4 linked regions of the Homo sapiens genome follow. The protein of the gene in region 1 purifies or fractionates together with the protein of each later gene. This does not show direct contact. Each region holds a gene or a part of one and is shown on either strand. Other genes may lie near its edges.

Region 1 (7,028 bases):
ACAGATGCTTGGAGAGGTTAAACTACTTGTTCAAATAATACTTCGGCTAACATAGAAGCAGTTTATCATCCTTGGTGCCCTTCCTCCTCACCGCCAAGCCTCTTCTCAAAAATTCTCCTTCTCAGTTCCATGAAAATGAAGAGTTCAAGCTGGCCTTTCTCTTTTTACCAGCTCCTAGCATGCCTAGGCAGGCTATAACCCTATCATAACATATTTATAACACAAAGAATACATTACTTGTGGAAGAACAAAAGCAGGTAACAGATGGTTAACCTCACACAGAGCAGTTGGAAAACTGCCCATGGGCCAGGTGTGGTGGCTCATGCCTGTAATCCCCACATTTTGGGAGGCTAAGGCACGCAGACTGCTTGAGCCTTGGAGTTTGAGACCAGCCTGGGCAACATGGCAAGACCCTGTCTCTACAAAAAACACAAAAATTAGCCAGGCATGGTGGTGTGCACCTGTTGTCCCAGCTACTCAGGAGGCTGAAGTGGGAGATGGCTTGAGTCCGGGAGATGGAGGTTGCATTGAGCCAAGATCATGCCACTGCACTCAAGCCTGGCAATAGAGTGAGACCCTGTCTCCAAAGACAGAAAGAAAACTGCCCATGTACCTTGTTTTATACTCAAAGAATTTTCTAGAAAATATGGAAGACCTCACATATAGTAGGGGGCTTTTACTCTCCATTTATAGATTTCTGTATTATAACAATAATTAATATACTCATTCCAGGCCGGGCATGGTGGCTCGTGCCTGTAATCCCAGCACTTTGGGAGGCTGAGGCAGGTGGATCACAAGGTCAGGAGATCGAGACCATCCTGGCCAACATGGTGAAACCCCGTCTCTTCTAAAAACACAAAAATTAGTTGGGCATGGTGGCGCATGCCTGTAGTACCAGCTACTCGGGAGGCTGAGGCAGGAGAATTGCTTGAATCCGGGAGGCAGAAGTTGCAGTGAGCCAAGATTGCGCCACTGCACTCCAGCTTGGCAGCAGAGTGAAAAAAAGATACTCATTCCAGACCACAAAGCTCTGCATAGCAAAGCTGAGTTTAGAGCCCAAATCCTCCAACTCGATGGGTACAGTTCTTTCTACAACAACACAGATTTAGTCACTCATCCAGTCCACGTTTATGAAGCACCTATCTAATACCAGGTATTGCACCAGACACTGGAGACTCGGGGGTGACATGTCAGCAGCAGTCCTTGCCTGCACGGAGTCTCAAGAGCCCAGGGATTCTTACCACGACACAGACAGAAATGACTTCTGAATCACCGGCTGCCCCAGATGGGCACCACCCTCAAACTCATCAGAGCAGAGAATCCCGAGCTGACCTTTGAACTATGGGCTGGCCTTGGACAGTAAACAGTGTAAACGTCCAGGAGAGGGAAAAGCAGACAAGCGTTCCAGGCTTCACAGCCTTGCCTTTCCAGTTTGTGGCACTCAGCCAGAAAGACAGGAAGTCCAAGCTGAGACATCACTGGCACCTGTGTTCAGTAGCCCATCCCTTAGGGCACCTTCTCCCCAAATCCCAAATCTCACCTCAAAAGCCACACAGTCTGACTGGTGTTGCCGCTTGGCCTCCTGAAGCTTGGCCAGCAAGTCCTGCACCGTCTTCCTCAAGCTCTCAACATCCTCATTTATACAGGTGTCCACCTACAGCCAGAACAAGGAAGGGAAGGGGAAGCCCTCAAGTTTCTGACTCAGTAAGAAAAGGTCCCCCCTCCCAGGCACACACTGGTTTGGACCATCTCGTCCAGACCACCCTCAAAAAAGAACTGTCATCACACAAGGGGAGAGTTACCTTAGGCAGCCAGGAATTCTGAGTTATTCAATGAAACATTGTCCCTTCATACCCTAAAGAACCCTGCTAGCCTCAAAACACCCAATTATTTTAGGACATGCTCAGTAATATTTCATGTATGTATCCACTAATCGATTTCTTGGTGAATATGTGGATGCTGTCTGTAGGTGTGCATCCTGCTTCCCTCTATCTGCCTACAGCTCTCTGAGAGCAGAGACCATGTTCCCCTTTGGACTAGAGTTCCCACAGGACAGGGACTATGTCGCGCCCATCACAAAGGGAGTGGTCCAAAAGCACATCCTTTACCATTCTCAGCTTTTGGCACTGACAGCAGCATATAAAGGGTTACTGATGGATGGACAGGTTTAGGGCAAAAGCATGCAATGAGTCCACGAATCTGATTCGATGTGGAAAAAGGTGTCTCATCGAGGTAACTGCTCAGTCTCTCCCAGACACACCCAACTGTGGGCTGGTGGTTAGAGATGAGCTAACATGTAGGGTCTCACCCCCGTCTCTGCTGCACAGGCACCAGACACTGGAGGAAGACAGTGTCCCAGTCTCTGCATCATCATCCTGTGGGTGATAATGAAGAAGTGAAGTCCTGTGGGCCTTCATTTCTTTATCTGTGAGGCAGTCAGTACACTCCCTACCACACCCTGCCTTACAGGCTGCCTCAAAACTAGGTAAGATAACATCCGGTACAGCTTTGAGCTTGTGAGAAGAAAGAGGCCAAACAGATATTACCAGGTGTTATTATAATTTGTTGCCAACAATGTATTTGCCAAATATGGTGATTCAAAAGAAGGAGAAAGTCCAAGCTGCCCATCTAAAGCAAGTGGTTAGAATCACAGCATTCCAAATCTAGATGTCATGAGTTATCCAGTCAATTTCCCTAAATCCTCACCTGAGCCAATGGCCTTTAAAAGGTTCCTGGAACACAGCTATTATGCACTTATTTCAAAGAGTGTTCTCATAAGACTGTTTAATGACATGGAAAACTTTCATGAAAATATTATTTCATCATATGATATAACATGAAGCAAAAAAGTAAGTTATAAAAGTACATGTAGGAGGCAGAAGCAATGAACTAGATTTTAATACAGCAATGTAGATAGATCCTAAAAAACACGGTACCAGGGAAAACAAGAACAAAGAGGGAAGAAGATATAGCACAAGTTCATCATGTATACTGAACATTTTACAGGCATATTTAAAGCCATATATTGAATTCATTAGAGTGAGTTTCTCTTGCAGGAGGTGGAGAGGCAAAAAAAACAAAAAACAAAAAACTGAAACCAGTGAGAGGCCTTGACAGGACCCATGAGGATGATGTGTCATGAACTAATGGGTGGGTCTGATTCAACCTATACTTGAGGGCCAAAAACACCGAATGCAAAAACATACCCAACTAAAGAAACAAAAAAAAAATTATAAAGAAATGCTACATACTGTACAATGTATTCACATGGTAAATATATATTTGCATTCGGGGAAAGATGAAATTTCACTGTGGTTTTTCTCTGAGTAGATTACAAGTGATATTTGTTTCTTCTTTCACTTTCCTGTGTTTCTGAATTTTCCAAATTTTCTACAATATGAATGTTTTGTATTGTATAATCACAAAAAAACATAATAACACACTTTTTAAAAATACAGTAATGGTGGCGGGGTGCAGTGGCTCACGCCTGTAATCCTAACACTTTGGGAGGCCAAGGTGGGAGGATCACCTGAGGTCAGGAGTTCGAGACCAGCTTGGCCAACATGGTGAAACCCCATCTCTACTAAAAATACAAAAATTAGCCAGGCGTGGTGGCTCACGCCAGTAGTCCCAGCTACTCAGTACGCTGAGGCACGAGAATTGCTTGAACCCAGGAGGTGGAGGTTGCAGCGAGCCAAGATCATACCACTGCACTGTACCCTGGGTGACAGAGCGAGACTCCATCTCAAAAAATAACAAATAAAGTACAGTCATGGAGGCCAAGCATAGTAGCTCATGACTATAATCCCAAAACTTTGGGAGGCCGAGGTGGGCAGATCACTTAAGCCCAGGAGTTTGAGATGAGCCTGGGAAACATGATGAGACCCTGTCTTTACAAAAAATACAAAAATTAGCCAGGTGTGGTGGCACGTGTCTATAGTCCCAGCCACTATAGTGGCTGCCACAGTCCCTCCCAGGCTGAGGCAGGAGGACTACCTGAGCCCAAGAGGTTGAGAATATAATGAGCCATGACTGCACCACTGCACTCCAGCTCAGATGACATAGGGAGACCCTGTCCCAAAAAATAATAATTATAAAAATTTAAAAAGTAGGCTAGGCACAGTGGCTCATGCCTATAATCCCAGCACTCTGGGAGGCGAGGCAAGCAGATCACTTGAGCCCAAGAATTCAAGAGCAGCCTGGGCAACCCCATCTCTACAAAAATTAGCCAGGCATAATGGCGCGTGCCCTATAGTCCCAGCTATTGGGTAGGCTGAGGTGGGAGGATTGCTTGAACCCCGGGGGTCGAGGCTGCAGTGAGCCATGATTGCCACTGCACTCCAGCCTGGGTGACAGGGTGAGACTCTGTCAGTCAGTCAATCAATCAATCAATCAGTCAATCAATCAAGTACAGCCATGGAAGGAAATACTATGTAGTTATTCAAAAGAATGAGGTAGATCTATATGTACTGACATGGAAAGAAGGTTATAATATACTCTTTAGTTAAGAAAAAAAAAGCAAGCAAAGAATAATGTATTTACCATGATCTTATAGTTGAGAAAAGCACATGTATATTATATACATATATTTATCATGTATATATGGTGTGTATATAACATATACATGATATTTAAATATGGTTGTCTATGTATATAAAAATATTCTAGAATACTGGCACTCAACTTTAGCTAAACATTAGTATCACCTGAAGAGCTCTTAAAAGTCCTGATGCCCAGGCCACCTATTGGAACAATGAAATGACAAGCTCTAGGGATGGGACCCAGGCATCATATCCTTTAACGCTTGCAAGGCCATTCCAATGAACAGCTGAGGCTGAGAAGCACTGCCCTAGAAAGATCCACCCACTTCAATCTGTTAACAGTGGATACTCGCAAGGAGAGAGATTGGGGAAGGAGAATTTCTACTCTTTGTATTTCTCTGTGTTTGAATTTTTATGTCAACTACTACTCTTGTATTTAATGAGAGAGAGAGAGAGAGAGAAAGCAATAAACAAAAGGATGGGGAGGAGGCAATCCTGCCCCTGGCTAAGCGGAGCCACCATGGTGTCCTCTGTTACCTACCTCAGGTGGGCTGCTGTACAGGGCTGTGGGACTCTGACTAAAGCCATTTGGCTTTTCTAGCACCACCTGTTCAAAGAAAAATAAAATTGGTAGTTAAAACAGATGAAAGCAACCAACTTTGAAACATTATTCTCCTAACACTCAAATCTTAGAAAGAGAAGGACAGGGAGAGGGAGAGGAAGGTGAAAGGGAGGGGGAGGGAGAGAGAAAAAGAAAGGGAGGGAGAAAAAGGAAGGAATGAAGAAAGGAGAAGAGGAAGAAGGAACGAAGCGAAAGAAGAAAAGATTTCTAGCGTTCCATGAGAAAATAGAAACAAGAGGGGGTGGAGAGATGTTATGCGGCCTTGAAAGGGCCTTGAAAGTCTTGTAGGGAGGATGAAAAAAACCTCAGGCTAAAATCTTTCAGCAGATGGAAAAGTATGTGTAGCCCATTCTTCTTAGCCAGGGAATACATGCAGCTGCCTGCCACAAACAAAGAGCTTCCCTTGCCCCCAGGGATCCTGATAAAGTTTGACAAAGCAAAAATTACAAAGGGAAGATCTTTTTCAATTATTTCTGACCCAAAGCCTGATTATTCATCATATGACAGCCGGTTTGTGCAAACAAGGGGGCTGGACTTTGGGCCAGTCTCTGCACACATTAGGTTCTTCTGATACCTGACAAAGTAGCTCCCACCAGCCAGATGTGAGCTCAAGCACTGAAAGACCTACCTTCAGCCAAAGCAAAAATTAGGTAATTTCCACCACACAAGTGCATGCCCAAGACAAAGAACTTTCCTTGCACCAGCTGCTGGGCCACTGTTCCCCTCAAGGGAATGAAGGCAGGGGCTGCTGCTGGAGCAAGACTCTGCCTGAACCAAAATGCAAATCAAGGATACAACTCAGAATCTAAAGGATGAGGGCGAAGTCACAAAGAGACAGCTCTGCTCTCCTGAGGACATTTCTGTCCTCGAGTTTTGGAAAAACTGAAAAGCAGGATCCCAGGATTATCCCTCCCAGGAAAGACTTACCCAATCTGTTCAGTCTAACAAACATTTACTGATGCCTTCTACATCCCAGACCTGGGGGGAATGGGAGGGTGAGGATACAGACACGAGGTGGGGTGGGGTGGGGTGAACTCCTAACCTTGAGGAACTTCCCATCCCAGGTTAGACATAACTATATACAAGATTAATAACAGGCTAGGGCACGGACTTCAATTTACGCTACAGGTATCACCCAAACTAAGCAAGATCAGCTTATGAGAAGTGTGGATTTACAGGTGATTGTCTGCTTTACAAAATTCTATTATTATAAGAAGCTTGATCACAGAATCCTTATAGATAAGAGGTTTGCTAACAACTGATGATATTTAATTTATATAAGTTCAATTTCTGTACAGTGTTTCAGGAGCAGGTGTACTTATGTTTAAGCTGACATGTGTAAATGTAAGTGCTCATCGGCTGGAGAGTCCTAACCAGATTGTGAGTGCTCCAGAGAAGCCAGCATCACCTCTATTTTCTCCATTCCTGGCAGGGATGCTAGATTTAGCACACACTGGGTAATTGGTAAATGAGACTGCCTGGCACAACCCCACCTCCTCGGTGGGGACCCAACCATGGACCATTTCCTATTACCTGTATCTCCTGTCGATGGAGAGAATCTCCTAGGTTCCTGTCAAGCTTGCTACTTATATCCTCCCGGAGCTTCTGTAGGCAGTTCCTGGCCTGGGAGGGGAGGGGAAGAAACTTGAGCTTTAGGGTAGAGAAAGAGAGCATGCCAACTCACCCAACTCTGTGCCCCATCCCTGGCCTGTACTGCGAGTCAGGCACTGTCCTAACGACTGGCTGCAGGATGGAGGGAGGGACCTTGGTCAAGTGGAGCTACAGCTGACATTCTTGTTGGGGAGACACAAGACACAAAAGACAAATAAGTAAAATGTGTAATATGTTATATGGGCATAAGTGCC
Region 2 (7,028 bases), on another chromosome or scaffold:
CTTAAAAACCATCAATACTACAAAATTTCACAACCCAAAGAATTATTTCTTACTTCCACCTGCTGAAGTAAATGAAAATGCTGGCCATTTTCTTATTCTGAAACTCTTATCCTTTTGCATCCATTTCCTACCACTATCTTTTCTTAGTTCTGATTTAGGTTCCTTTTCTTCTATTTTTAAAATCACATCATCGTCCTTCTTTTCACTGGCTATCTCATTAGCTAACATGGTTACAGCTTTCTATTGTATGCTGATAACACTAGCACTGTCTTTTCTCTTGAATTCCACATGGGTATTTGTGTTATATTTTCTTTTTCTTCTATTCAGTATCAAAGAGTCTGATATGTGCCAGACACCAGGTATAGAATTATGGTGAGGAATAAAAGACACTCCTTACCTTTGACAGGCTTACAGTGGTAGAGAAAACAGACCAGTAAACAGGTAATTATAATATAGTGCTTGTTATAACAGAGGTGTGTAAAGGGTGTTATGAGAATACACAGCAGGGCTCTACTATATGCGTCCTATGGTCATCTCAAAACCAATTCCTTGCAAAACTAAACCATTTAATCCCCACGCGTCAGCAGATTCTTCTTTCTAGATTCTCTATCCTGGTTAACAGCCACAGATTCAAAACAACATCAAAAAAAAAAAAAAAAAAAAAAGAAAGAAAAAGAAAAAGAAAAAAAAGACACCAAACCAAAACAAATCTTGACTCCTCCTTTTCTCACCCTCCCTTGGAATAATGGATTTTAGTTCTAAAACATATCCCAAATATATTCCTTCTTCACTATCCCTCATGTCATTGACTTGTATTTTATTCTCTTTCAACCTGGCTATAACAAGTGTTTCATTCTAGACTCTTCCTAGTCATTGATTATTTAGCCCCCAAAGTTAATTTCTAAAACTTAGATCTGATCATATATCCCATACCTCCCCTTTCCTCAAAACTATTTATTGCTCCTGACTGAAAATACAATAAAATCCAAAATCCTTGTATTATTTAGTTCTTCAAAATCTGGAGCCAATTTCCATTCTAGTCTTATCTTCTTCTGTCACACCATACTATATACACAAATATGTCATGCATTTTAATGCTTTCAAGCCTTTTCATATGCTGCTTGCTCAGCTGGGAATGTGTTTTTGTTTCCGCAATCAGCCTTTCTCCACCAACAGCAACCTAGTGGATACAATCAAGTATTCAACCTCCCCCTTTCCCTTCTGCAGTGTTATTGTCTTCTAGGGCTCCTCAGGCTTTTTGTTTTTTAGTTCATCACAGAATTATAGCATTTACCACACAGTAAAATAATATCAACACTTTTTTTTTTTCCTTTTTTTTTTTTTTTTTTGAGACAGAGTCTTGCTTTGTCACCCAGGCTGGATGCAGTGGTATGATCTTGGCTCACTGCAACCTCTGCCTCCAGAGTTCAAGCGATTCTCCTGCCTCAGCCTCCTGAATAGCTGGGATTACAGGCATGCACCACCACGCCCAGCTAATTTTTGTTTTTGTTTTGTTATTGTTGTTTTTGAGATGGAGTTTCACTCTTGTTGCCCAGGTTGGAGTGCAATGGCATGATCTCAGCTCACTGTAACCTCCGCCTCCCAGGTTCAAGCGATTTTCCTGCCTCAGGCTCCCAAGTAGCTGGGAATTACAGGTGCCCGCCACCACGCCTGGCTAATTTTTATATTTTTAGCACAGACGGGGTTTCGCCATGTTGGCCAGGCTGGTCTCAAACTCCTGACCTCGGGTAATCCACCCACCTAGGCCTCCCAAAGTGCTGGGATTACAGGTGTGAGCCACCGCAGCCAGCCGTAATTTTTGTATTTTTAGTAGAGATGAAGTTTCACCATGTTGACCAAGCTGGTCTCAAACTCCTGACCTCAAATGATCCACCTGCCTCAGCCTCCCCAAGTGCTGGGATTACAAGCGTGAGCCACCGCACCTAGCCCAACGCTTCTTTTCTACTCCGCTATATTGATCAATCCATTCATTCCAGAAGCAATTACTGAGTATAAACCACCATGTCAAATGCTGGGAGTATAACGGGCACAAAGAGTCCCCCAAACTACTTGTGGACAGGGGTCTTATGTTTTACTCGTAGTAATTTCATTTCCTTACTTACGGGCAGTGTTCAATAAATTTGGTTGGTTGAATATACTTCATGGCTGTTTAACTAGTAGGGTCTAAGTAATATGAGGAAAACAAATGACAAACATGCTACTCTACATGCATGTACTGGGGATGTGGACATGGATGAAGACTAAACTCTTCATCAAATCCCCAACTGTCATGATCAAAAAACAGTTAACACAGTCACAAAAAATATACCTTGGGTTCCCTTTGGACCAAACACTAACCACTTCCCTCCCAATCCCCATCATTTTTGTTGCTCAACCAGTGAAAAAATGGGTACAGCTTTAGGGAATCTTAAGCAAGATGACTAAATCATCTTGCTAAATCAAAAGAGAAAACAATACTTATTACTTCTTGAGTGTCAATTATATGCCCAACATGGTACGAACAAGTTTTACTTGCATTATTACTAATCTTCACACCTTGCCAGATGGGTATTAAGTTCATATGACAGACAAACTAAGGCTTGGGCAGGCTGAGTAACTCGCTTAAGTTCAGAGAGAAAATTGTGGAACTTGATCCAAACCCAAGTATCTAGGTGTCTCTGTTCTTTTCTGGATTGCATCTCTCTCCCTCTCGATGTCCCTATCTCCATCCTCTCCCAATTCCAATCCATCCTCTATGCTGCTCCCAGTTGTACCCTTCTAAAACACAAATCTGGTGAGTTTACTCTCTGTTTAGAAAAAGAACAAGACAGGATGCAACAAAAGAATCAAGTCTGAAAGATGCTGTAGCAGGATAATTCCTGTGGGTTTGTAGCTCTTTAAAATTAAACAAGCAGGGTACAAAGAAGCTATAAAAAATCACATTGCATTAGTTTCAGTTTGTGTGTGTGTGTGTGTGTGTGTGTGTGTGTGTGTGTGTGTTTTCCTGGCTCTGAACTTTGTTTCACTGCACTGGTTTTCACATGAATTTCACACAGCCTATCCCTGGAAAGGGTGGGACAAATCAAACAAAACTCAATGGAACACCATCCCTTCTTTATAAAAATAAATTCCTTTCCACCACTACTAACTGCTAAACAATAGATGTCTTTGTTTTCATTCTGACTCTGAATTTTGAGACTATTTCTTTGAATTATTTTAGTGAGCTAAGAGAATCATAATAATTTAAGCTTTCTGATTAATTTCAGGTTACGTTAAAAAACCAAAACCAAAACCAAAAGAATCAAAACAATCATCTTGGGCCTACCTGCACTTAAAGGCAAGAAAAACTAGCTTATCTAAAACTCACGCTTAGGCAAATTTGAGCCTACCGTAACTGTGACAATTTACTTCTTTAAACTATTAAATCACTTTTAGTTCAATTCTACATTAACTAAAAAAGATATCGGAATTAAACAAATACAGGAAATTGTAAAACAAAATAAAACTTTAAAACATCTTTTTTATAAGTTGTAATCTTTTTGCATTGTGATTAAGTAATAACACAAACATTACCATCTTAGCCACGGAAGTGTACAATTTTGTGTCATTAAATACATTTACATTGTCATGCAACCATCACCATCATCTATCCTTGGAACATTTCCTTTCTTAACTCTGTGCCCATTAACACTAATTCCCTATTCTCTTCCTCCTCCAAAAACCACTATTCTACTTTCCATCTCTAAGAAATTGACTACTCTAGGTGTATCATATAAGCAGTGGAATTACACAATATTTATCATTTCATAACTGGTTTATTTCATTTAGTATAAGTCTTCAAGGTTTATTCATATTGTAGCATGTGTCACAATTTCCCTAAGGCTGAATAATATTTCAATGTATGTATGCCACATTTATCCTTCAATAAAAGTAAGTTTCAAAATAATTATAACTTTATAGGGTCTTTAGGGGGGATATCAGGTGTTTTCCATTACAGTTCCATGAGGTAGATGTAAGTAGCTCCATGTTTAAAAATGGAGTTTCTGAGGATAAGCTACTTAATCACTCCTTCTCAGAGACTTGGGATATCCATGTCTTTCTCACCCCAAAGTTCATACTCTCCCCACTATATCTTGATACTTCATACTTCTAATGAAAGGTACAAGAGGTAACAAGTAGGGATGAAATGTGCATAAAACAGAGTTCATTTAACTCTGTTAATTATGAGTGTGATAATGCTGACACCTGAAAAAAATCTTGCCAATGGTTTTCTCATGTTCCCATGGATATTTCAGGAAACACACTTTAATTTTTTCCAGAACTCTACATATGCTGGCTTAATGCCATTTCAACACAATATCTGTGAAACTAAATATTTAAATTGTTATTTGGATTCCACGTCCACAATAGAAGCTATCCCTGGGAACACAGGGAAAGTCAGCTTAATGTTAATGTACTACTCATTCACAAGGTCAGATTATATTCCTGACTTGCTAGTACAGATTTTAAAAACTGTTCAGATTTCTACAGTATAATTTACATTAGCATTTAATAAATGTAAAAATATGAGTATTTTTAAGCAACGCAGGGTTAGTCAAAGACTTTTCCTCTTTTTAGGAAATTAGTCAATATAGTTCCTTCTCATCTACAATAAAGAAAATGAATCTATTCCACTTAGAATATGCATCTGTTTACATTCAGATCTAAAATGTATTATTCACTTCTCTTTAATCTACATGAATTTAAAACTCAGCAGGCAAATCATTCAACAGATGATCAAAGTCTAAGATAAATGCAGAAATATAATTTGTCTTTTCTATGACCTGTTTGATTTTCAGGGGAATGCATGTAGGCAAACCATGAATGTTTGGCAGAAGATACGTGTTTTCTGTGCCTTCCAGTATGCTATCTCGTATTATCCTTCATGATAGTTAAAATATACTCCCAAAGCTGGTCCAAAGACAGTGAGTTATCTCGATTGTTCAGTCAGTTACAGAACAAACTCCTTGTTCTACTCTTTTCCCCGTTCTCACTACTGCACTTTAGTAGTCTTAAAAAATAAAATATATTCCCAAAGGATTCTGCATATCATTTCCTTAACTGATAAAAGATCATCCTCAGAAAATGGAAAACAAAATTATAAACCATAGGTTGTTGGTTAGTTACCAAAATGCATAAATAAGGGAAAAAGGGAGAAAGTTTTAAAACAGTCAAATTGTTGTTAAAGTTTGACTTAGTAACATTATGTTAAAGTTACCACAGAAACTCACTTGCTAATGTACCTTCAGAAATGCCAGATTTAGGTACAGAGAAAAATTTATTTCCACAAAGACTTACAGAACCCAAGGAGTAGTAGTTTATAACACAAATGCTGATGCAACCTTAACAGGAAATACATAACAACTATGCATTAATTCTTGGAGAGGTACACAATTAAGAAGATATATTTCTCATACTTTACAACCAAGATAATACATACATACTATTTAATGTCAGGCAGGAGCTTAAAAGTAGGTTTAGGGCTTTATTTCACTGTATAGTGATCAGAAAAAGGGATTTAGGGGGAAAAGTCTGATAGAAAACAATCTTCAAAAAATTCTCACTGAGTACCTCAGAATATTATGGTTGATTTGGAAAGAGGAGGGAAACTTTCAGGCCACATTGTATAAACTAATGTGTTCAAGACTTGCACACTTCCATATTTGGTCAGTCTGCACATGAAGAGAAACAAGGCTGTTAGGGTCAACGTGAATGGTTACAATGTAAGCTTAAACGTCTATCCAATATTGTTACAAAGTTTCTAAAGAATAATGATCTCAGGATCAACACAAAACAGAGGGGTGAGGGTGGTTGGGATGACTAGGTAACCAGTTTATGCTAAAAAAAAAAAAAAAAGCAACAGCTATGATGTATACATGGTGTTTTTCCAGGCATACTCACGGGCATTAAGTCCTGAGCCTTGAATTTTTTTTCAGTGGGATCTAACTATGTAAACTCAGTAAAACAAGGTAACTACATACAAAGCACCAAAATGTCATGCCAAATTCTGCTTTACGTACCTTAAATGAGCACTTCTTAAATATTTGAGTTCTATCTCCAAGAAACATTATTTAACAAACTATAGGAACGATCCCTGAAGTATAGTCTTGCTAAGAAAGATTATTTAGGCCGGGCGCGGTGGCTTTCTCTTGTAATCCTATCATTTTGGGAGGCCGAGGCAGGTGGATTACCTGAGGTCAGGAGTTCGAGACCAGCCTGGCCAACATAGTGAAAACCCGTCTCTACTAAAAATAAAAAAAAAAAAATTATCTGGGTGTGGTGGTGCGCGCCTGTAGTCCCAGCTACTCGGGAAGCTGAGGCAGGAGAACCTCTTAAACCCGGAAGGCGGAGGTTGCAGTGAGCCGAGATCACGCCACTGCACTCCAGCCTGGGAGGATGCAGTGAGCTGATATCGTGCCGCCACACTCCAGCCTGGGCGACAGAGTGAGACTCCGTTTCAAAAGAAGAAAAAAAAAAGAAACAAACAAAGATTATTTAAGAGTGTTGTCACGTTGGGAGGCCAGAGTGGGAGGATTGCTTGAGGCCAGGTGTTTGATAACAGCTTGGGCCACACAGTGAAACCCAGTCTCTACAAACAATAGCAAAATTCACTGGGTGTGGTCGCATGTGCCTGCAGTCCTAGCTACTTGGGAGGCTGAAGCAGGAGGATCACTGGTGCCCAGAAGTTCAAGGTTGAGGTGAGCTACGACAGCACTACTGCACTCCAGCCTGGGAAAGAGAACAAAACCCTATCTCTTTTAAAAAAAAAAAAAAGTGTGTTGTATTCATTTATTCCACATGCTTGAGAAGTCTACTGATACCTGATTATATTGAAATTACAAAGATAACATTATGGGCAGCCTATGTCAGAACCTTAGCAAACCAGTGTTTTTACAAAGATACTCACCTGTAGCACCAATTTAAACTATTTTCTGAAAACTGTATTCAAAAATTCCTTGTTAAAACTACTGGGAAATAATGAGACCTCC
Region 3 (7,028 bases), on another chromosome or scaffold:
GTCAATATATTAATTTTTTTTCATGGTTACAATTTTGTAATGGTTCTCTTAATGATGGATAATTGTTTTCAGGGGTTTTTTTGCTATGATTTAAAAAATTTTACAGTGAATACTGTTGAGCTACATCTCTGGATATTACTATCGATTATATGGTCAGTGCACTTGTGGCTTTATGAATATTTTAAATAATGTAGTCAAGTCTGTTGATCTTTTTCCTTGTCATCTGTGTTTTGTGGATTTTGGTATTTCCAAACTATATTCATTTCTACAGAGTTATTTTCATTTCCATTTTTTGAACTGTCACTTGTAAAACACTTTCTTTTTATAGAACCTTATGAGTGATAGCAAGATGTATTAGTATGTAATACATTGTGATGGAGTGTAATGATCACAAGGATCAGTGACAGTTTTGATGACCAATTTCAGAGTTATAAAATAAATGAAATATATTCTGGAAAAGTCATGGGCTTTTTGTGTTGTTTGTGGAATCACTAAAGGTAGTCCCTCACTATTAACAAATTTGTTTTGACACATAATATGTGAGGCACTGAATTATAATAGGCACTAGAAACATTGCCTATTTTCCTGAATCCTTTAGACAGGATTGCTTCCCCAGTTACCAGAGATTTCTCTAACCTTGATTTACAGTAGCTACTGCTGGTAGGAATTGCTCTCCACTCCACTTTTGCTGCCATCCAGTGTTACATTACCCTACAAATATACTAAGTGCTTAGCAAAGCAGAGTCCAAATGTAAGATCAATTTTTGTCTTACCCAGAATTTTACAATTAAAATATATAAATAAAAGATTTCTCTGTGTGTGGATGTATGTGTACAGTATAGTGTTGCATGCTATACATGGGGTGAGGTATCAGAATGCTTTTTCAGTGTTTGGCACCTCTAATTTGGCTCTGTGGCCATTTATTCCACCTTTCTACCTTGAAATTCCACAACTTGGGCTCTTGAAATTACCTGGTATGGTGCAATGCACGTGTATTCTCAGCTACTCCAGAGGCTGAGGCGGGAGGATCACTTGAGCCCAGGAGTTTGAGGTTGAGATTGAGATGAACTGTGAGAACATGCTACTGCACTCCAGTCTGGGCAACAGAGCAAGACCTCATCTCTAAAAAATTTTGGGCTTGAAACGGGCTGATTTTGTCCTACCACTAGTAATCACTTTTAGAAGTAGCTTACAATTGCTGTTTCTTCCTTCTTATGGGGGGAAATACCCTTATAGGAGGTATTATGAAGCCAATATCTAATAAACTCTGTCATCATTAGCTCACTTCCACTCTTCTGCCATCTCTCTGTACCTGATTAGTATAGTTTTGAAAAATTATAATTTTGCTACCACTGCACCTCTCCTTGTTAGTAGGGGAGATTTATGTAAGAGAAGAATCTTTTATTTCTAGACAAGGTAATATCCCATTGGGAAGAAACAGCCAAGGGAGAAGAAATGTTTTTTTCTTCTTTGAAGGGACTAGAACTTTTATAGCTCAGCAAATTTGAATAAGTTTGATGGTAATTCAGCTACATTATATTTTAGCTAGATTTCTGAGTTCATTTGGTAACCTAACCACCACATATATACCTATTTATAACTTGAAATTTGCCTTTAAAGTCACGAAAGCACAAAGCACTGTGGTGCTTGTAACACTCTTCCATATTATTATAGGTAACTAAATGACCATGGAATCTGGAGCCGAGAACCAGCAGAGTGGAGATGCAGCTGTAACAGAAGCTGAAAACCAACAAATGACAGTTCAAGCCCAGCCACAGATTGCCACATTAGCCCAGGTATAAAATACATGGAGAGATTCCAGTTTGTGTCTCTTCCTAGAGGAATACGTTTCCAAGAGAATTTAGTTGTTATTACATAGATATACATAGAATGAGCAGAGATACTCTTACAATATCAAAATTCCTATTTACTTAGTATTAGAGTATATTTAGAAATGATAGTATTAATTCAATAACAGTAAAATGTATTATTAAACAATAATACAGTATTTTTAGTGAAATGATCCAGAAATAATTACATTTTAAACTTATGGGTAAATGGTGCTCTCAGATAAGGGAAGAAAACCTTGGCTATGTATGACAACTGCTTTTTTTATTTTTTTAATATGACACAGATTTATTTTTTAACAGTGGGAATGCAGATAATATGAAAGCCTAAGTTTATATAACTAAACTAAAAATTAGGATAAGCAAATAAATTGACATGTAAGGAAATTTTAAGGATGATAGCAGTTTTTGTTTCCTGTATATTTTAAATATAATTTCTGATTCTTTCATTTCATCTTTCTCTTTAACATCCTATCTTTAAGAATATTTTCTCTCATTCTTATGTTTTTGTTTGCATGCATTCTCCTCAACTATTTTATTAACAGCTGTTTACATAGATAGGAATGAGAAAGGTGGTTAACTTAAAAAACAAATAGCAGATACAGACCTGCTAGGTAATAGTGTGATACCGTCTCTTTCAGATGAAGGTTCCCAGGAGAATATAATCCTAGCAGAAGCTCTGATATATGTAGCTTCAGTTTCTCCAAGAGTTTAAAAGTTCCTAGAGAAGTCACCTAGCAAGAATGAATCATGGGAAATAGAGGACTCACCACACTTGGGTGTCTGGCTGAGGTAGTGTGAGCCAGATACTGGATTTCCAGCAAGAATATAGTCAGAAGGAGTGAGCTGTTCTGTGTTTTCTCCTAAGACCACCAGGGTTTACCTCCAGCCTTCAGGAATAAGACAAAGCCAAATACATCTAATGTACTCATACGAGGCAGGCTGCAGGATTGAAGGGGAGAGAGCCAGGACTTCCATCAATATAGGGTCAACAGATAAGAATCTGGGCTCATCTGTATATTTTGCCCTTTAGAAAGAGGAAGACACAATGCTAGGCCGGGCGCTGTGGCTCACGCCTATAATCCAAACACTTTAGGAGGCTGAGGCGAGCGAATCACTTGAGGTCAGGAGTTCAAGACGAGCCTGGCCAACATGGTGAAACCCCATCTCTACTAAAAATACAAAAATTAACCAGGCGTGGTAGCACACACCTGTAAATCCAGCGACCTTAGAAGGCTGAGGGAGGAGAATTGCTTAAGTCCGGGAGGCAGAGGTTGCAGTGAACTGAGATTGCGCCACTGCATTCCAGCCGGGGTGACAGAACAAGATTCCCTCTCAAAAAAAAAAAGAAGATGCAATGCCAGCAGGCTTCTTTATGATGATAGCCCTTAACACATCTTATCTCTGGAGTCACACTATTTTGTCCAGTCTGGTTGTCCCCAGAGTAGGCTGTATTGTGTCATCCTGGGAATTCCTTTCTCCCTACTTCCATTTTCTCACAGTTTGTGTTTTTGATATGGTAAAGCATGTTTTTCAGTGGTTTTATGAGAAAGAAAGGTTGGCTGAGTAAAGATAGCATGTTATAAAAATTGAATGTATGGGCCGGGTGTGATGGCTCACACCTATAATCCCCACACTTTGGGAGGCCGAGGCAGGCGGATCACGAGGTTAGGAGATTGAGACCATCCTGGCTAACACAGTGAAGCCCGTCTCTACTAAAAATACAAAAAAATTAGCTGGGTGTGGTTATGGGCTCCTGTAGTCCCAGCTACTCGGGAGGCTGAGGCAGGAGAATGTCATGAACCCGAGACCGCACCACTGCACTCCAGCCTGGGTGACAGAGCGAGACTCCATCTCAAAAAGTAAATAAATACAAATAAAAATTGAATGTACATGTGCCTTAACATCTAGAAGATGTACAACAAAAATATTAAAAGTGATTAGCTATGGGTGATAGGAATATAAAGGGTTTTTATTTTATTTTTTATATCTGTATTTTATAAATTTATAATGAGAGGAGCCATTATATAAAATTATTAGTGTAGAAAAGGGATTATTCATTGAGTTAGCTAGGTATATTTTCCCTAGAGAAGACTCAGGAAAGAGAACATAGTAATTGCTTCAAATATTACAAGAGCATTTATATGGAATTGAGATGAGATACTCTGAATAAGGTTATGGTTCTCAAACTTCAGTGTACGGGAAAGTATGATTGGGTTCCTGTTAGAGTTGACTTTACAGAGTATCCTGTGTGACTCTAATGAAGCTATTCCATGGACCACATTTTGAGAATCAAATAAAACTAAGCAAGATTTATAGTGGCCAGAGAGAAAGTGATTAATAAGTAAGGACTTTATTACTATCCAGAGATGGAAGCTTCTGGTTTTACCCTATATGCCAAAGACACTGTCTTTATAGGGATCTTCCCCCCAGGCTTCACAGTCACATATTTCGCTGCCTGCTAAAATAAACATCTCTACAAATTCAGATGTCAGAGTAGTTTCATCATCTTCCATTACAACCCCAGTCACCCAAAAGCCTATCCTTACTTCTTGCATTCTCTTTTTCAATTAAGGACAGTCTGCCAATTCTCTTTCAGACATGAAACATTGGGTCATCTGCAGTTCCTCTCTCACCTCTTTTAACTATTCATAAAGCCCTTTCTGGACTGCTTCCAAATTTTCATAAAATCACTTCCCTCGTTCCCATCTCTACTACTACTAACTGCCCTCTTTTTGGCCTTCATCATCTTTCCTTAACTACTTCATGGGCTTTCTTCGTTGGTCTCCCCACCACCAGTTTTCCCCCTGAAATATATATCTTTCACACTGCCACTAAAGTGATTTTTTTTTTTTTTTTTTGAGATGGAGTTTTGTTCTTATTGCCCAGGCTGGAGTGCAATGGCGCGATCTCGGCTCACTGCAACCTCTGCCCCCTGGGTTTAAGCAGTTCTGCTTCAGCCTCCCAAGTAGCTGGGATTACAGGCACCTGCCACCATACCTGGCTAATTTTTTGTATTTTTAGTAGAGATGGGGTTTCACCATGTTGGCCAGGCTGGTCTCGAACTCTAGACCTCAGATGATCCACCCGCCTCGGCCTCCCAAAGTGCTGGGATTACAGGCGTGAGCCACATTGCCCGGCCTAAAGTGATCTATCTAAAAGCAAACATCACCATGGTATTCAGGAGTTCAAAAGCCCTTCAGTGGCTTCTGCAATACCCTCAGGATAAAATGCAGTTTCTCTGAGGTGACATAATACAGGCTTTTTGTGACTAGCACATCTAGCCCCACCTGCCTCTGTTGTTTTCTCTCTCCCTACTTCATACATCATACAGTAACACACTTATGTGCACCATTGGTGCTGAGCTGCTGGTTATCCCACTCTGCCATGTGTGCTGTTTCTCTTTGCTTTTGCCACTACTCCACTCTGTGCTTGAAATTCTGTGACTCTTCCCTGTAAGTAATAATAACAAGTCTAACTTTTTTCTTTTGTTTTAAATTCACATTCTTCCCTGATAGCCTCCCCTTCTCTTAGGTTGGGTAGAGTAATTCTCAGTGTGTCCATTTTTCTTTTAGCAAACCTCATTACTAAACTGAATTGTATTGTGTCTCTTTTCCCCATTCCTTCGCATACATACCCCCAATAATTTATTTGAGGTCAGAGACCCCTATCTTTCTCACTTTTGTAGTTTCAGTTCTAACATTATTCCTGGAACATAGGTCCCCAATAACTGTTTCCTGATTTAGCAAATAAAATTCCTATCCTTGAATGTGTTCAAGCATAGGAGCAATAAATAACATCTGATAGACATGTATGATTTAAGGACCCTTTTAACCTGGGTATTGACTCATTAAAACTGCCTTAGTTCTAGACTTAGTAGGTCAGGTTTGCTTATGCTTGAGAGCAGTTAGATTTTAGAACGTGACTTATTTAACATGATATTCTTTAGAATTTTATGTTTCTTCAAGGATAGTATATCTGTTGACCTTGGGTGAACACTTAATCTCATTGAGCAGTTATTTGTGTTTTTAAAAATGGAGATCCTTATCACCCAGTCTTCAGTTTCTTCAAATAGCAAAATCAGAAATTGGAAATGAAAGCAGGTGGGAAAATGTAAAGTGCCATACAAATAAAGTGATATCTCATGTTCAGAGAGTCTGTATTACATATTTGGTATAACATGGGAATAGTTTTTAATTTTTTGTCACTTGGGAAGAGCTGAAAAGGATAGGGGTATAGTTTTTGGTGTTTTTTATAGTGTTTTTTCTTAAAGAATATTAAATTTAGTCATTACTTTCATATCAGTGAAATACATATCTAGCAAAAAGGTCACGTTTTTGCTTCTAAAAAGTTATTTCATATTGAACATGAGTACTGCCAAAGAGTGTCTGGGATGATAATTCTTTTCTGTGTTCAACACCATAGGTATCTATGCCAGCAGCTCATGCAACATCATCTGCTCCCACCGTAACTCTAGTACAGCTGCCCAATGGGCAGACAGTTCAAGTCCATGGAGTCATTCAGGCGGCCCAGCCATCAGTTATTCAGTCTCCACAAGTCCAAACAGTTCAGGTATGTGTATAAAAAGTTCTGCATCTATTTTAATAACTTTTGTTTATAGCCATATCTCTCTCCTTTCACTAGTTATGAAAATAAGGACACATCTAGTTCAGTTTATTTTATTCACAGTATAGGAATATGCTGCATCTGTATAGTCACCTTATGTATAGGAACATATATACAGAAGAACAAACATAAAAGAAAATGACTAATTTCTTAAGCTGCAGAGGAAAAAGAATTGATTGGGGAAAATAATGAAGTACATGAGATAAAGTGGAAGTGTTTGGGAGAAACTGTAGGACTGAAGTACCTCAGTCGAGGAAAATTGAGATGCAAAAATAGTAACTAATTTTCTAAATCTGCAATTGGAGAAAAATATACCCTTGATCAAAAATTAATAACCTTACCTAAGATATTATTTGACCTTAGAGATTACATAAAGCATTTGTAAAATCAGCTGTGCTTAGGGTTTTCAGTTACAGTGTGTAACTTTGAAATAATATATTCAGAGGTTACATCTTAAGGGTCAGGAATTATACTATGCATGTTATCTAATTCTTTGGAGAGATCTTTCCTTTGGGTTTGATCCACAGGTAATAAAGGCACTGTAGACCTTTGAAG
Region 4 (6,984 bases), about 23 Mb from region 1:
GACTTGTCCAGATTACTCTGAATTTCAGCCCTACATAAAACCGTGAAATAAAAAAGGTTTTCTTCTGTATCTCCAGTTTTACCTGTTACATCTTTCGCTCTCTCGGTGATTTCTCCCTTCCTCCAGTAGCCAGTGCCTCTTTTCCAAATCTTCCTGTTAGTAAAAAAAAAAAAGACTAAAAAATCATGTGATAAACTCATTTATATAAGATTAGTGATTCGAGTCATGAAGTGCTCTTCTTGGGCAAAGTTGATTTAAATAGGGCACAGGATTTAAGTCAAAGTGAAAAAAAAAAAAAGTGTAACGATGGGCTTTCAGGCATCAGGTAGCCCAGTCAGGGAAGGATTTTTTGGTGTGGTCAAATTCCTTTCAAGACCCTGTAAAATCTTGCCAGACAGCTTGTTACCTTTCTATCATTGGAAACGTATCCTTGGAAGAGTCATATAATGCAACTAAAGTTATTTGTTCCATAGTATGCATGGAAAGATTTAGCTTTATCTGTAAGAAATACAAAGCCAAACTCGAACCTTCTTAAAAAGCTGTCAAAATCAGGCCGGGCACGGTGGTTCACGCCTGTAATCCTAGCACTTTGGGAGGCCGAGGCGGGTGGATCACCTGAGGTCAGGAGTTTGAGACCAGCTCGGCCAATATGGTGAAACCCCATCTCTACTAAAAATACAAAAATTAGCTGGGCGTGGTGGTGGGCACCTGTAATCCCAGCTTCTCAGGAGGCTGAGACAGGACAATCGCTTGAACCCGGGAGGCAGGGGTTGTAGTGAACCGAGATTGCGCCACTGCACTCCAGTCTGGGCAACAGAGTGAGACTGTTTAAAAAAAAAAAAAAAAGCTGTGAAAATTTATTGTCTCAGAGGAAGGGGTAGGCTTCAAGCTGGGTTTGAGTGCTTCCATCATGTGTCAGCTTCATCCTCAGGCTGGCTTCCTCATGGTAGCAAAGTGGCTGCAGTAACTATTGGACTCACATCTACCCATCACACTAGCCAGAGTAAGAAAAAGAGCACTTTTCATTTCCCAACAAACACAAGATATGGCCTTCCATGTGACTGGCACCAATTTAGACTCATGTCAGTGCCTATCAGTGAATACTGACAGGTCAAGTGAGAATGGGATTAGGCTGATTATCACAATCACTGTCCACACCTGGAGCGGGAGATGGGCCTAATCAGATCCTTGGCTGTCTTGCAATTGCAGAGGGGTGGAAATATATTCTGGGGAATCAATCAATATAATGCTCACTATAAAATCAATATGATATTCTGTACCATTAGATACCAGTTTAAACTCTTACATTATTGTTCAATGTTTAACTTGTTTCTAATTTTTTTTTTCTTTTTTGTGGAGACAGGGTATTGTTATGTTGCCCAGGCTAATCTTGAACTTCTGGGCTCAAGCAATTCTGCCTTGGCCTCTCAAAGTGCTGGGATTACAGGCATGAACCACTGCACCTGGTCTGTTTCCAATTTTTGATATTACATTTTAAACTAGGAGTTGCAGACATAAATGAGAGAAACAACACTGTAAGATACAATAGAGAATGTAGAGACTTTGGCAAAAGAGAGAATGCATGTCCTGCAGCTGATCGTTATCATGTAATAATGTAAGCTCACTGTTACCAAATCTTCCACTTTTTAAAGAGAAGCCCAAAATGCATGTATAATCTTCTGGTTTTTAACTTTGGATATGTGTTTTTTTAAGCACCATGTATGCCAAACAAAACATGTTTGTGGGTTTGATTTGTACCTGGGGCACCAGTTTGTCATGTTATGAATCATGCTGGAGTATTTTATAACACCATCTCTCAAAGTGAGAGTTTCAGTCCTTTCATGGACCAGGGCTGCTAGGATACGCTTAATGCAAATGAAGCCACAGTGGAAAGAGAAGTGAGCAGCACATACCACATGAAGAATGCTTTGTTATTAATTTTTTATTCCTTTTAGTTTCTCGACTAAAAGCCTGAAGATCTGTTAATAATTTTTTGGCATGTGCTTAGAATTGTTTTTCTGGTGGTAAGGATGAGTTTGCATCAGATCACCTTAATTGTCTTTTATCTAGGTTCTCTCATGACTTGTCTCTTATCTATGTTGTACTGTGAGGAAAAGTTCAGTTTTAAAGAATGACCCCTGTTGATGAGAGGTGTTACATGTGGCCATGGGACAGGATTTTTCTTTTCCTTATAGCAAGTTGGCACATGAAGATAGCATGCTCCACTTAAATAGAAGAATTAACTCGCAGTGGCCAGTGGTGTCCACTATTGCTTTCAAAGACATATGGAACTGAATTTGGGGAACACTAAACTTGTTTTGGACTTGCCATTTTTTTTTTAAATTCTTTTTTAGCTAAGTTACCTATTGAATGCCCATAATTACCACATCCATTGTCCTTTTTTGTCAAAAAGCTTCACTCCAGTTAGAAGATACCTGAAGGCAGAAACTGCGGCTTTGTCAACTGTTGATTTCCTCATGGCGCGCAGTGTAAATTTACTAGTACTTTATTTAGTAGAGGCTTAGTACTTACTGGTTGGCAGATTTATTAATAGTTCCTGTACATCTCAGGAAATCAACAGATGATTTATGTTATTCTAACCCTAACTTTATTAAATATAATAAAAACTTTCAGCATTTATTGTCAGGCCCAGGGCTAGGTAGGCTCCTGAGATACAGAAGTTAATAAGGGAAGCAGCCCAGAAGGTAGGGGAAACAAAAAAATAGTTACAACACTCTTGATATGTCTCAGCATCTATAGACATTAACATCAGGAAAAGCGGGGGTGTGGGGGGAAGGAATTTGTCAGGGAGGGCCCTTTGGACAAATGTCACGTTTCTCAGAGTAGCTTTTAAATATGGGTGGGAAAATGAGGGCAGGGGAATTGAAGTGGGATAGAAGGGAGATATTTAAACTAAAGTCATTCTATGGCTGCAATCACTGGACACTATATTCACTTATCCATGCAATCACATTCATTGAGTGCTTCCTATGAGTTAGGCAGGGTGCACAGTGTAAGATACAAATGAATGATACAGGTTCACAGCGGTTGTCTAGTGGGATAAAATGCTGCACAGGGCAACCTGGATAAGCCTGACATGTTAGGTGCCACAAAACTACAGAACAAAGTGCTAAGGAGATTCGGAAAATTTACAGGTCATTTCTGGTTGCAGGATCTAGAAGAAGGATGTCCACAATTCAAGGATCAGTACAATCTTCGTAGCGAAAAAGCGTTGGTTTATTCTACCTCTACCTAGTTTGTACCTCAACATCTTTTACCCCAAAGGATAAAAAGGTGCAAATGAGGGCACATTTTCTTCATATAATACGTAATGGTGCTTACTTATTGCTTTCCTGTTCATTCCCCGCAGGTGATTTCCCTCTTCAGTCTCCCCCGAGTCTCACAGAAGGAACTAACAAGGGAGCGCTTCACAAGCACACAGACACCTTCAAACAGGCGCAGAAGAGTACTTGGTGAAAAAGTATTCTTTCAGGTGACTTTCCTTAAGATTACTGAGCATTAAGAATGAAAATATGTAAACCAGGTTTACGAGCAAGAAAATAATCTCTCCACATTCAGAGTTAATCTTCCGAACTCAGCAACTGCCAGTAGAACGCACCCCGGTCAGGGCGGGCTCGCGGGCGCGGTCCCACCCCCAGGCCCCTCCGCCGCGGAGGTTCTCCAGCGCCGCCCGTACTCCCGCCTTTCGCGCGTCCCTGCTCTAACAGCTCTGGTTCTGTCAGGACCTCACTCCTCCGCTCCCGGCGCAACCGCGGCCACGCAGCGACGTGCACGCGCGTGTGCGCCGCCGCCGCCCGGCAGAGTGGGCGCCTCCGACATCAGGAGCGCGCACGCCGCGCAGAGGGGCCTGGACGAGCGCGCTTCCGACCCGCCGCCACCGCCTCCTCCCCTCCTTCTCGGCCCGCCCCCTCCCTCGCCTCTTCCTGCCAGGCGGCCCTTCTCCCCTCCCCTCTCAGTTCCCTCCGCCCTCCTCGGGCTCCAGCGGTGGCGGAGCGAACGGGACCGGCCCGGCTTCAGAGCGCGAGGTGGAGGGTGGAACGCGGGCGCCTGAAGGAGTTGTTGTCTCGGCAGCGCCCGCGGAGACGTGAAGAGGTGAGGCGAGGACGGCCTCCTAGGGACACGAGGGCGGCCCGGCGGCCCGGATCCGCGGGCCGAGGCTGCCTGGGTGTGTTGGCGTCGGGCTGAGCCTGGGGAGGGTCGAGATGGGGCCCCAGCCGAGGACTGGGATGCGGGAGGACCGCGGTAAGGAGGGTAGGGGGCGGGTTCAGGACTGTCGGCCGCCTCCCGGACACCGCAGTTCTCCCAGGTGGCCGCTCCTCGCGGATAGGGCGGGCGGGGTCGGCGCCCTTACCTGGGGGTGGGGTAGTGGCTTTGGCGGCCGCCTCCTCCAGCTGTGCCCTCCTGACATTGCTGCCTCGGCGGCTGCCGCCCGCTGCTACGCTGTGGCTGCTGCTGGATTCGCAGTCCCAGCCGCCCTGCGTCCGGTGGGCGAGTGGTTAGGGTATTTTCTTACCCACACGCAGGCTTCTGTACTCGACCATTTCTCTCCCTCGCCCTTCCTCTTCCTCCGCCGAGCACTTTGCTCGGCTCCTGCTGTTGATGCTTGTGGTTTTGCAGTTTGGGATGGGATGCGTTCCGGGCAGATCCCTACCTGTAGGGAATGCCCCGCTTCAAAGTTGACCTCCTGAGCCATGACAAACACCTCCCCCCAACCCCCACCCACCTTGTGAGTGCTCAGTGTCCTGATAACTGAGTCAAAGTTTCTGAGACTGGGCTAGTACTTTGCACTGGTCGCCAACGGTACAGGGCTGGGCAGTGCGTCAGCATGTGGAAAGGGGCCACCGGCTAGCGGGAGGTGGCCGGGTGCATGGGAGCTGAACTGACGGGTTTCAGATACTAGGCAGTGTGTCCAGGTCCTTGGATCTCTCAGATAGGGTTATATTAGAATATGTACCAAAACTTGGGTGGTCACTTGCAAAATTGGTTTCATGCAAGTAAACTGAAATGCCAGCCTTATTACACTAATGGTAAGGAGAACTTTTGCTTGCCTGACAGATTTCAGCGCAGTTTGGAAAATGATTTTAAGGCCTTTATTTTTGGCACTGGAGGGGTTTAGGGATTTTTAATACATTTAAATTTCCTCGTGCATAGTGGGAGGTAAGTAGTTGCTTGTTAAAATTCTGAAAACACAGTTTCATGAAAACCTTCTGACTTTTCTTACAGTAGTGTTTATATTTGGCATCTTCCGTAGAATATCCATTAGTTATGATGTCAGAAGATACGGATGTGAAGTTTGCTTTTTGTGATCACATTGGAAGTGGATTTTGTTCATGGAAAATACTGGTTCACAAGCTCCTAGTACTAGAAAACTGGCCTGTGATTCATTTTCTCAGTAGAGCGTCCCTTATGAAATTGACAATGAGATTTCTAAGGAGAAAGACTAGTTGAACTTTATGTATACATTATCATCAAATTGTATTAAATGTACACCTGCCTGAGGGGTTAGCTCTAGACTTTGAGTTAGACTGGTGTCTATACTAAATCAGTTCAATAAATGCGCTGATATTATGTATTATTCATTTGGAGAGAAGTAGATAAAGCAGGGCAGAGTTTATATTTTAACATATTATGTAGCCTACATTTGCTCTGATGTGTATTATTATTATTATTATTATTATTATTATTATTATTTTTGAGACGAAGTTTCGCTCTTGATGCCCAGGCTGGAGTGCAACAGCGCGATCTCGGCTCACCACAACCTCCGCCTCCCGGGTTCAAGCGATTCTCCTGCCTCAGCTTTTTGTGTAGCTGGGACTACAGGCATGCGCCGCCACGCCTGGCTAATTTTGTATTTTTAGTACAGACTGGGTTTCTCCATGTTGGTCAGGCTGGTGGAACTGCTGACCTCAGGTGATCTGCCCGCCTCAGCCTCCCAAAGTGCTGGGATTACAGGCGTTAGCCACAGCGCCCGGCCTCTGATGTGTACTAGTAAGTCATATGGGGAGAAGTAGATGAAATAGGGTAGAGCTTATATGTGAACATATTATATAACCTACATTGTCCTCTAGAAAGCTGGAAACAAGTTAGTAAGTCTCAGTACTATTGGGGCATATGGTGAATATACAAACCAACCTAAAAAAGTGTGACTGTAAATAGATGAAGTTTGTTTGTTTCTTTTAAAGAGACAAGGTCTCGCTCTGGCGCCCAGGCTGGAGTGCAGTGGCTCAGTCCTAGCTCACTGCAGCCACGAAGTTCTGGTCTCAAGAGATCCTCCCACCTCAGCCTCCTGAGTAGCTGGGACCACAGGCACATGCCACCAAACCTGGCTAATTTTTTGTTTTATTTTTGTAGAGTCAAGGGTCTCACCATGTTGCTCAGGCTAGTCTCCAACTCCTGGCCTCAGGCAGTCCTTGCGCCTCAGCCTCTCGAAGTGCTGGGATTACAGGCCTGAGCCAACGGTGCTTGTCCCATTTTTTTTTTTTTTCACCTGAGTTATTTGATGGGAATTTCTATATATTACAGTTGCGATGTTCTGAGAATTTTTGTTTCTTTGATAATTGTTTCATGATTTAGATGTTTTCTTTTTACGCTGGTAGTTATGATTTTTTTTTCCTTTGAATGAAAGAATTTTATTAGGCATGTGAAACAGGAGTTTTCATGTGATCAGCTCTCCAGTTCTAAATTTGTGACTTTTAAAAAACTTGAATTTTTTTCTTTGCCTTAACCCAAACTTGAATTTGCTCAGCCATTGTATATTTATTTGAACTCTCAGATGATACAGCATTGAAGCAGAAAGTCCTTTTATCCATGCTTTTGGAGTAATCAAAAGAAGGAATTCTGTTGTGCCAAGTAAAAATATGTGTGGGAGATAGCTAGGCTTCAAGAGATTGACTTTGAAGAGAGTAGTGGCTAAGTAGCAAAAATTTCCTATATTGAAGGTGTAGAAGTGGGCCTGCATTCCAA

Evidence for each region.
Region 2: the proteins of TUFT1 (region 1) and RABGAP1 purify together in Homo sapiens (affinity purification with mass spectrometry; 4 studies listed by BioGRID and IntAct, with this or other methods). This does not show direct contact.
Region 3: the proteins of TUFT1 (region 1) and CREB1 purify together in Homo sapiens (affinity purification with mass spectrometry; 3 studies listed by BioGRID and IntAct, with this or other methods). This does not show direct contact.
Region 4: the proteins of TUFT1 (region 1) and RABGAP1L purify together in Homo sapiens (affinity purification with mass spectrometry; 4 studies listed by BioGRID and IntAct, with this or other methods). This does not show direct contact.

What each region holds. Positions count from the first base shown.
Region 1 is NC_000001.11:151,564,283-151,571,310, reverse strand, and holds part of TUFT1 (tuftelin), read right to left. Parts: intron 6,787-7,028; coding exon 6,697-6,786; intron 5,149-6,696; coding exon 5,083-5,148; intron 1,655-5,082; coding exon 1,541-1,654; intron 1-1,540. UniProt on the Homo sapiens protein: Involved in the structural organization of the epidermis. Involved in the mineralization and structural organization of enamel.
Region 2 is NC_000009.12:122,944,015-122,951,042, reverse strand, and holds part of RABGAP1 (rab GTPase-activating protein 1), read right to left. Parts: intron 5,712-7,028; exon of another isoform or gene 5,611-5,711; intron 1-5,610. UniProt on the Homo sapiens protein: May act as a GTPase-activating protein of RAB6A. May play a role in microtubule nucleation by centrosome. May participate in a RAB6A-mediated pathway involved in the metaphase-anaphase transition.
Region 3 is NC_000002.12:207,553,954-207,560,981, forward strand, and holds part of CREB1 (cyclic AMP-responsive element-binding protein 1), read left to right. Parts: intron 1-1,674; 5' UTR 1,675-1,682; coding exon 1,683-1,796; intron 1,797-5,168; exon of another isoform or gene 5,169-5,302; intron 5,303-6,272; coding exon 6,273-6,419; intron 6,420-7,028.
Region 4 is NC_000001.11:174,155,545-174,162,528, forward strand, and holds the start of RABGAP1L (rab GTPase-activating protein 1-like), read left to right. Parts: upstream 1-3,975; 5' UTR 3,976-4,113; intron 4,114-6,984. UniProt on the Homo sapiens protein: GTP-hydrolysis activating protein (GAP) for small GTPase RAB22A, converting active RAB22A-GTP to the inactive form RAB22A-GDP. Plays a role in endocytosis and intracellular protein transport.